2 linked regions of the Homo sapiens genome follow. The protein of the gene in region 1 interacts with the protein of each later gene in a biochemical or structural test. Each region holds a gene or a part of one and is shown in the gene's direction. Other genes may lie near its edges. The genes, in order: CD151 and ITGA3.

What was found.
Region 2: the proteins of CD151 (region 1) and ITGA3 form a complex in vitro, tested with the Homo sapiens proteins (one study listed by BioGRID).

The regions. Positions count from the first base shown.
Region 1 is NC_000011.10:831,285-835,805, forward strand, and holds the start of CD151 (CD151 antigen), read left to right. Parts: upstream 1-1,667; 5' UTR 1,668-1,742; intron 1,743-2,708; exon of another isoform or gene 2,709-2,783; intron 2,784-3,245; 5' UTR 3,246-3,307; intron 3,308-4,521. Other genes in the region: CRACR2B (EF-hand calcium-binding domain-containing protein 4A), read left to right, coding at 1-11, 251-425. UniProt on the Homo sapiens protein: Structural component of specialized membrane microdomains known as tetraspanin-enriched microdomains (TERMs), which act as platforms for receptor clustering and signaling.
Region 2 is NC_000017.11:50,059,110-50,062,609, forward strand, and holds part of ITGA3 (integrin alpha-3 preproprotein), read left to right. Parts: intron 1-3,500.

The DNA.
Region 1 (4,521 bases):
GAGCTGCTCAGGTACGGTCAGGCTCAGGCCCGAGAGGGAATGGGCTCAGCGGAGCTTGGGGGCTCCCAGCTCCCCAACATTCTTGGCTGCCGCTCTACTCCATTGGAAGTCCTTCCTTATGCCTGCCTTTCACCCCTCACGCTGCAGCCTCAGCCAGACACCTCTCTTCGCTCTGAGGGGAGTCGGAGCTCACCTCCCCCCACCTTGAGCTCCCTCAGACCCTCTCAGTGTCGGACTCCTCCTTCCCTAGGGAGCTGAATACACGGCTGCGGGATGACAGGGACGCCTGCGAGGCCAGGCGGGCGGGCAGCAGCTGCAGGAAGGCTCTGACAACAGCCCGCCTGCCTGGGCCCACCTGCTGCTGCTGCTGTTGCTGGGCTCGGCCCCCCAGACGCGGCTCTGGCCACCTTCCCAGTGCCCGGTGACCAGCCCCGAGTGACTCACGGACCATGAGCTAGAAGCTGCCCTTGCAGGAGGCTTGTCATGGGTCGGGGGTGCCCACTCAGGATGCAGGCTCTCCCCAGTGGGCCCCAGGCTCGCCTGACTGAAGACATGAAGGACCTAGCCTAGGAGTGGTCAGGGTCCCGGGAGTGGCCAGGGTCCCGTGTGTGCCCTCTGCCAGTCTTCGCTCTGTCCCCGTTCAATCAACCCCATCTCAGTTCAGCAGAAAACCCCCTCGTCAAATAAAACCCACTGACTGCACTGCGTCCTCCTGGGCCTTCCGTGTGTCTGGGAGCCACAGCCTGTGTGTGCCACATGGATGAGGTGGGCACCTGTGCACGCGTGCTGTGTGGGTGAATACAGGGAGCGCGGGCCTGTGGCGATGGGGCTGAGGTCCTGCGTGTCCTCTTGTGTCCCTGGTCATGCCCCAAACTCACACTACCCATCAAGGCTGGAGCCCCTCGGGGCCCTCGCCAGTGTGTGGATCAGGGCTCCCCACTGTCTCGCCAGGGAGGCCGGGCAGGTTCCCGGCCTCAGTCGGCCACCCCCTCCCATGCTGGTCCTCCCCTGTGGCTGTGATGAATGAGCTTGGTGGGTGGGCAGCCCCCTCCTTCCTCACTCCCACTCTTGGCGTCTTGGTGCAGCCCTAGGCCGGCCCTGCCCTTCGTCCCTCACCTCCTCGCACCGCTCCCAGTGGTCCCTTCCAGTCTGGAGGGCATGGGCCCCCCAGGACCCCATGGGTATGTCTCGCTGGGACCCCAGGCCTGCCCGGGTCTCCAGGCTGTCCACACTGCACGTACAGTAGCCCTTCTCCCGCATTTGCCCACAGCGCTAGGCCCTCCCACGCCCCAGGCCGGCATCGGTTCTGCCGACCCCTGCAGCCTCTGGGCGGTTCCTGGGTGAGGAGAAAGAGATGGGGGTTGGGCATGGAGGAGGGCCGGGTCGCCACAGCCCAGGGCCTCTGGCTAGGCTGGTCGCCGTCTTACCTCCGGGCCCGCCTCCCGCCCAGCTCCTCCGTCCTTGGACGGGATGGGCCCTTGCTGGGCTATTGGCGCCCCCAGGGCTGCAGCTCGCCCGGCCTCCGCAGTGCCAGGTCGACCCCCAGCGCCTACACCCACGCGGGTTCAGACCTGCCGAGCGCCCGCCGCCGCGGGAGGGGCTTGAGGCCGGGGCGGGGCCGGGGCGGGGCGGGGCGGGGCGTCCCCCTCGTAGGCTCCGGGCCGCGCATTCTCAGCGCTGGGAGCCGCCGCCCCCGCAGCTGCTGCCGCCGCCGCCAGGGCCCGGACTCGGACGCGTGGTAGGTGAGTGCGCGGCCACGACAGCTCGGCCGAGCGGGGCGAGCGGGGCGAGGGGGGCGAGGGGCGCGAGGGGGGCGAGGGGCGCGAGGGGGCCGAAGGCCCTGCGCGCCCCAGCCCCGGAGGCCCAGCCGCAGGCGCCGGGAGGTTCCGGGAGGCCGCACCCACCGCCTGGCCCAGCTCCCTCGCCTGCCCCAGCTCCCTCGCCTGCCCTTCCGCGGGAGGCGGACTCCGGGCGGGTTGGGGAGGCGCAGCGGGAAGGAGAGGCGCCTCCCGGGCCCTTGGACCGGCCTGACGGCCCCCTTCAGCCCAGGGGTCCCGGGACGCGCAGCCTGGACACCCTGCTCATTGTCCCTGGACACGGCAGTCTTCCCTCCGCCCGCAGCAGCCCCCGCCCGCGTGCAAGTGGGCGCGCCATTGGCCGCGCCGGGCGGGGTCGGCGGCGGCGGTGACCTCATTGCAGTGCCCCGGGGACGCTTGGCAGGCGCGGAGTCCCAGGTCCCCCTGACTGGGGCTCCCCCTGATAGGGCGCGGGCCGCCCAGGGGCCTGGTGCAGGTCCCGGGGACTTGGGGAGGAACAGACAACTATTTCTGGAAGGCCCTTTCCCAGGGGGTCCAGAGGGACCAGGCATTCCTGGGAAGAGGGGCCACTCCTCAGCGGGTCGCCTGTGTCCTCGCGGTGGAGGACGCATCTGTGCCCAGAACCAACTTCTCCAGAAAGCCTGGGACCTTACAGCCAGGCCAGGGGCAGGTCCTTGAGGGGCTCACACATCCCCCCATCGGTGGCAGACGCACACCCCGCCCCCCGGTGGCAGACACATCCCCCCGCTGGTGGCAGGGTCTGCCTGTGCCACCCTTCCTGCGTGTATTTAGGCCCTGGCTCCTTCATGGAGGGTGAATATCCCCTCTCAGCTCAGTGGTAAGGTCTGTCCCCCTCCAGCTCCATTCCATGATGCCTCTTTCCCAGGCTGTAGCTGCCGCTGTTTGTGGGGGAAGGGCCAGTGATGGGTCTGGAGCGAAGGCCAAGAGTGGGGCACCTGGGGGAAGGTATGAGGTCCCTCCCAGGATCAGACTGTCCCGAAATGTCGTCTGCCTTGGGAGGCCAAGGCGGGTGGAACATCTAAGGTCAGGAGTTCGAGACCAGCCTGGTCCACATGGTGAAACTCTGTCTGTACTAAAAATACAAACATTAGCTGGGCGTGGTGGTGGGTGCCTGTAATCCCAGTGACTCAGGAGGCTGAGGCAGGAGAATTGCTTGAACTCAGGAGGCGGAGGTTGCAGTGAGCTGAGATCGTGCCATTGCACTCCAGCCTGGGTGACAGAGCGAAACTCCATCTCAAAAAAAGAAAAAAAGAAAAAAACAAAATGTCTTGTGCCTTGCCCCACCCTAGCCCAGACTAAAATACCGGGCTTGGCCACTCCTCTCTCTGCCTCCAGAATGAACCCGGCCCACTCTGGCCCTTGGGCCAGACCTGTAACCTGTGACCTGACATGTCCTTGCCCCTCTAGCCTAGAGTCCTGGGGAGCTTCTGTCCACCTGTCCTGCAGAGGAGTCGTTTCCAGCCCGGCTGGTGAGTGCTGGCCAGGGTGGGGCAGAGCAGGCGGGGCGGCGAAAGTCCAGACCTGGCTGTGCTGTCTGGAAACGTGGCCCAGGGCGCTCAGCTGCTGTCTGCACCCCACGCCCTCCCTGGCTTCCCCATGCTCACAGCTTGCCCACTGCTGCAGGTCGGGCGGGCACGGGGCATCTGGGGAGGGGCATAGCCTGTCTGTGCTGCCCCCTCAGGTTGGTGTGGGTCGCCTGTCCAGGAAAAACCCTCCCAGTCTGCCAGGCTCCACCTGCCTCCACGCTCCATTCTCCCCACCCCGGCCAGGATGAAGGAAGGGCTGCCCTTTAACAGACCGTAAACAGGCCTGGAGAGCTTAGGAAGGGGCTGAGCTGGGGCCTGTCTGAGCCCCTACCCCTCTGCTGTCTGAGTGGCCTCCTCCGCCCTTACTGCAGGCCCATAGGCTCCTGCCAGCCTGTGACGTGCGGCCCCGGGAATGCCGTGGGGAGCGGGCAGGCTGGCATGAGCTCACCGGAGGTACCCGCTAGGGCTTCCTCCCCCGGCCGCTAGCAGGGGTGAGTCAGCAGTGATGGCGGGAGGTCCTCCATGACCCCTGTCCTGTCTGTGGGCACCAGGGGTCTGTCCTGGCTGTCAGGGCTCCTGAGTCGCTAGGAAGTGACACGTCCTGTTCCCACAGGGGCTCATTCACAGGCCTCCCAGGACAGTGGCTGGCTCTGCCCCGACTTCTGGGCTGGCTTGGGTATCTGTGTCCCCTCTTTTTTTTCTTTTTTATTGAGATGGAGTCTCACTGTCGCCCAGCCTGGAGTGCAGTGGCACCATCTCGGCTCACTGCAAGCTCCGCCTCCCGGGTTCATGCCATTCTCCTGCCTCAGCCTCCCAAGTAGCTGGGACCACAGGCGCCCACCATCACGCCCAGTTAATTTTTGTATATTTTTGATGGAGATGGGGTTTCACCACAATGGCCAGGCTGGTTGTGAACTCCCGACCTCAAGTGATTGCACCTGCCTTGGCCTCCCAAAGTGCTGGCATTATAGGCATGAGACACCGCACCTGGACTCCTTTCCTCTACTTTCTTTGGGTTAATTTGCTAGTCTCTTTTTATTATTTATTTATTTATTTTGAGATGGAGTCTCACTCTGTCGCCCAGGCTGGAGTGCAGTGGCACCATCTCGGCTCACTGCAAGCTTCGCCTCCCGGGTTCACGCCATTCTCCTGCCTCA
Region 2 (3,500 bases), on another chromosome or scaffold:
ACAACATAGGGGGCTAGCCCCAACCCAGGGCCCAGTCTCCTAGTCTGTGGAAATGAGGGGTAAGGAGCAGGCAGAGGACCAAAGTGCTCTGGGCTTCTTGGCAAGATGCATGAGGGGTTCCTTGGAGGGACAGGGACTGTTCTCTGGGAGGTGGTTACTGACACCCTCTCTGCTCCAGCACCTGCACTGACATTCCCTCCTGGGAATCCAGGCATTCTGGTCTGGCCTGACCCTGTGGGCCTATGGGGATACTGCCGGTCCTTCTCTCTCTTTCACTTTTGCTTGGAAATGAGGGTATCTGGGAAGCCCAGGGCAGGGTGGCTCCTAGAAATGAGGTCATGCCTGAGGTACGCAGGAGCCAGGCTCACCTGCCATGCTCTCCTAACATCATGTTTCCCTGGGCAAAGCAGGTGCCTGGCAGCCTTCAAGGTTCGTGCCAGCAGAAATGGGCACAGCAGCTGTGGCTGGAGGCAGAAGGCCTGCTCGTGTAGTATCTTTTTCCTCTGGCTCTACCCAGTGACCAGTCTAGGCCAAGAGGCTTTCAACTGGGCAGGAGTAGGGGAAGCCTGATCTTGTAGAAAAAGCAGCAGCGAAGGGGGCTTGGTCAGAAGTAAACAAAGAAGGAAGAAGATCCCCTTTGCAGTAAGAGGAATTGAGGTTAGATGACACTTAGAATGCCCTCGGGGGTCAAATACAGGAAAAATACTGAAGAGCCAAGGAAAGGGAGCAGAACTGAGAAAAATGGCCTTGTTCTTTTTTTATCTGAGGCTTAGCCAGGGCTCTTTTTCCTGTCCTTTCTCATTCTCTCTCTCCCTCCAGCTTGTTGCTCTGGTTCTAGGGCTGAGTCACCAGTGGGGAGAGGGGGCTGGGTGGGCAGCAAGGGAAGGGTCAGGAAGGATGGGGAGGGCTGCAGTTTCAGCTGCCACAGGGCCGGCCTCTGGGGAGATGGCTAATTCGGGCAGCAAGGCTGGCATAGAGCTGGGATCCAGGCATCCCAGAGCTGCCCCCACCCCTTCTCTGGGGCTCAGAGGTGGAGCAGGCACCCTCCCCACCTGCCTCCCGGCCGGGGATAGGAGGGGAACACAGGAGGCTAGGTACCCAAGGAGTGAGGCCCTGCCATGTTGGCCTGAGTGCTAGATCCTTTGGCCCCCTCTGGAATCCTCCCATGGAGCCACCAAGTGCCTCCCTGAGGTGACAGAATCTGGGAAGGTGAATCTTACAGGCTGCTTCTCTGAGCATTACCCCACCCCAGTGCCCCCAGGGGCCTTCTCCTCTTTGAGGTGAGCCAACCTGGTACCCTGAATTCTCCTGGGTACTGTGCCGCGCCCTTCTTTGATTCTTCTGCTTTCTCCTTGGCTGTTCCATTAGCTCTGAACTGCCCCAAGGGGAGTGATAGGGCAGGGGTAAGGAAGGGCTTTTTCGGAACTTGGAGCTCAAGGGGCTCCGCAGAGGCCAAGAGGGGCTGTTTGGCTGGAGCCAATGGGAGGGTGAGGAGGCAGCTGTTGGAAAGCCCTTGAGTAGTCACTTCACCCATCCCACTCCATCTGGGGGGCTGGGGGTCTCTGCTCCCCCCAGTCCAGCCTGACTCCAGGAGAGGGGCAGTCCCATCTCCTATCTTCCTTGCTCTAAGAGCTCCATCTAGGCATCCCTCCACCTACTCTCCCTCCTTCTGGCTGCAGCTGAGGGGATGGGTTCAGTACTGCTCTGGAAGGGGTCAGCTTTTGGATTTTGTGATCTGGACCAGACCTAAAAGCAGGTGGCTGGCAGAATTGCTCATTTGTGTACTAATTTGCATTTCATTTGCATACAGTAAGGTCCCTCTCACCTTCAGGATTCTCCAACCCCCTCCGCACACACCTGGGTGTGTGTGGCTGGAGGAAGCTGGAACCACCCTCTGCACACCCGCCTTCCCCCATCCATGTGCAGGCCTCTGGCTGTAGACCCATTGGATCCTGGGCTGGGAGCCAGAGGGCCTTAAAGGGCCTCTGAGTGGGCCAAGTGGAAGCTAAAAATACTCTGGGGGGGTGAAGCGGGGGCTCACTCTGGAATCTCTGAGGAGGGAGGGGCCTGGGATGTAGGGCTGGGATTAGGGCACTGGCCCTGCCCTGCCCTCTATCAGTAGGCATAAGGCTGGTTCCAGGCAACAGGCAGGAGGGTATTGGTGGTAAGGGGAAGTATTTCAATCTGATTGACATGCGTGCCCAGCTCTGCCTGCTCAGTACCTTGGGAAGTTCAGAGGAGGGAGTCCCTTAGCCCCTTCCTGGCTGAGTTGAGGGGGCTGGGAGGGCATGGAGACCCTTTTGCTCAGCTGCCTCCTGTATGACAACATGGGCAGGGCAGCAGCAGCAACAAGGGGGCAACACTTCCATTACAGGCGTGCCCAAGGCCCGGCCTCCCACTGAGGCCCGGACCCCTTAGTGTCACTGTAGAAAATTCCCAACCTCCACCTCCAGCCAGATCTGAGCCCCCGCTGTAGAGTGACTCTAGCTGCCAGCGCTCCCACCCTGACCCCAGTGATCACCTGGTATCCTCAAGCCATGGAAGTCTTCCTATGTCTCCCTGCTGATCTCTCTAAACCACCAAAGGAGTCTCTTCTTTTCCCTCTGCTCCAGGTTCCCTAACATGCCAGGGCAGAAATTCCTGGGTCCAGCCAGGCACGGTGGCTCACGCTTGTAATCCCAGTAACTTGGGAGGCCGAGGCGGGTGGATCACCTGAGGTCAGGAGTTCGACATCAGCCTGGCCAATATGGCGAAACCCCATCTCTAGTACAAATACAAAAATTAGCTGGGCGTGGTGGTGCATGCCTGTAATCCCAGCTACTTGGGAGGCTGAGTCAGGAGAATCACTTGCACCCGGGAGGCGGAGGTGGCAGTGAGCCGAGGTTGTGCCACTGCACTCCAGCCTGGGTGACAGAGCAAGACCCTGTCTCAAAAAAAAAAAAAAAAAGAAAGAAAAAAAGAAATTCCTGGGTCCCTGGAGGGAGGGCTGGAGGCATGCTAGACCAGTCCTGATGCCACAACAAATCGGAACAACAATGCTCACATTAGCTATGGCTTCATATCAGAACACCTTTTTGTAGAATAGACCTATTTGTTCCTCTAGCAACCCTGGAGGTCAGCAGGAGAGGGGCTGCCCCCATTTTACAGATGGGGCACTCAGGGCTCAGAGAAGGAAAGGAAATTGCCCCTTCAGGCAGAACAAACCCTAGACCCAGGTCCGTGGGTTCTCAGGCTGAGATGCTCCTTTCCCGCAGGCTGTGGGTCCCTTCTCTCATCTGTCAGGCACGCCAGAGAGCGGATGTCCATGGGTGGTCAGGCAGTGGACTCATCGAGGCCTTCCCAGCCCAGAGAGAAGTGACTCTCCAGGCCTGGCTGCCACCCTGGCCCCCTGCCAGCCTCCCTGGCCAGGAAGCTTCACCCCTTCTCCCAGGAACACTTCCCCAGGGTGAGGTCTGAGCTGTTGTCTTGAAGTATAGGCAAGGTCCCACCCCCTTCCCAGC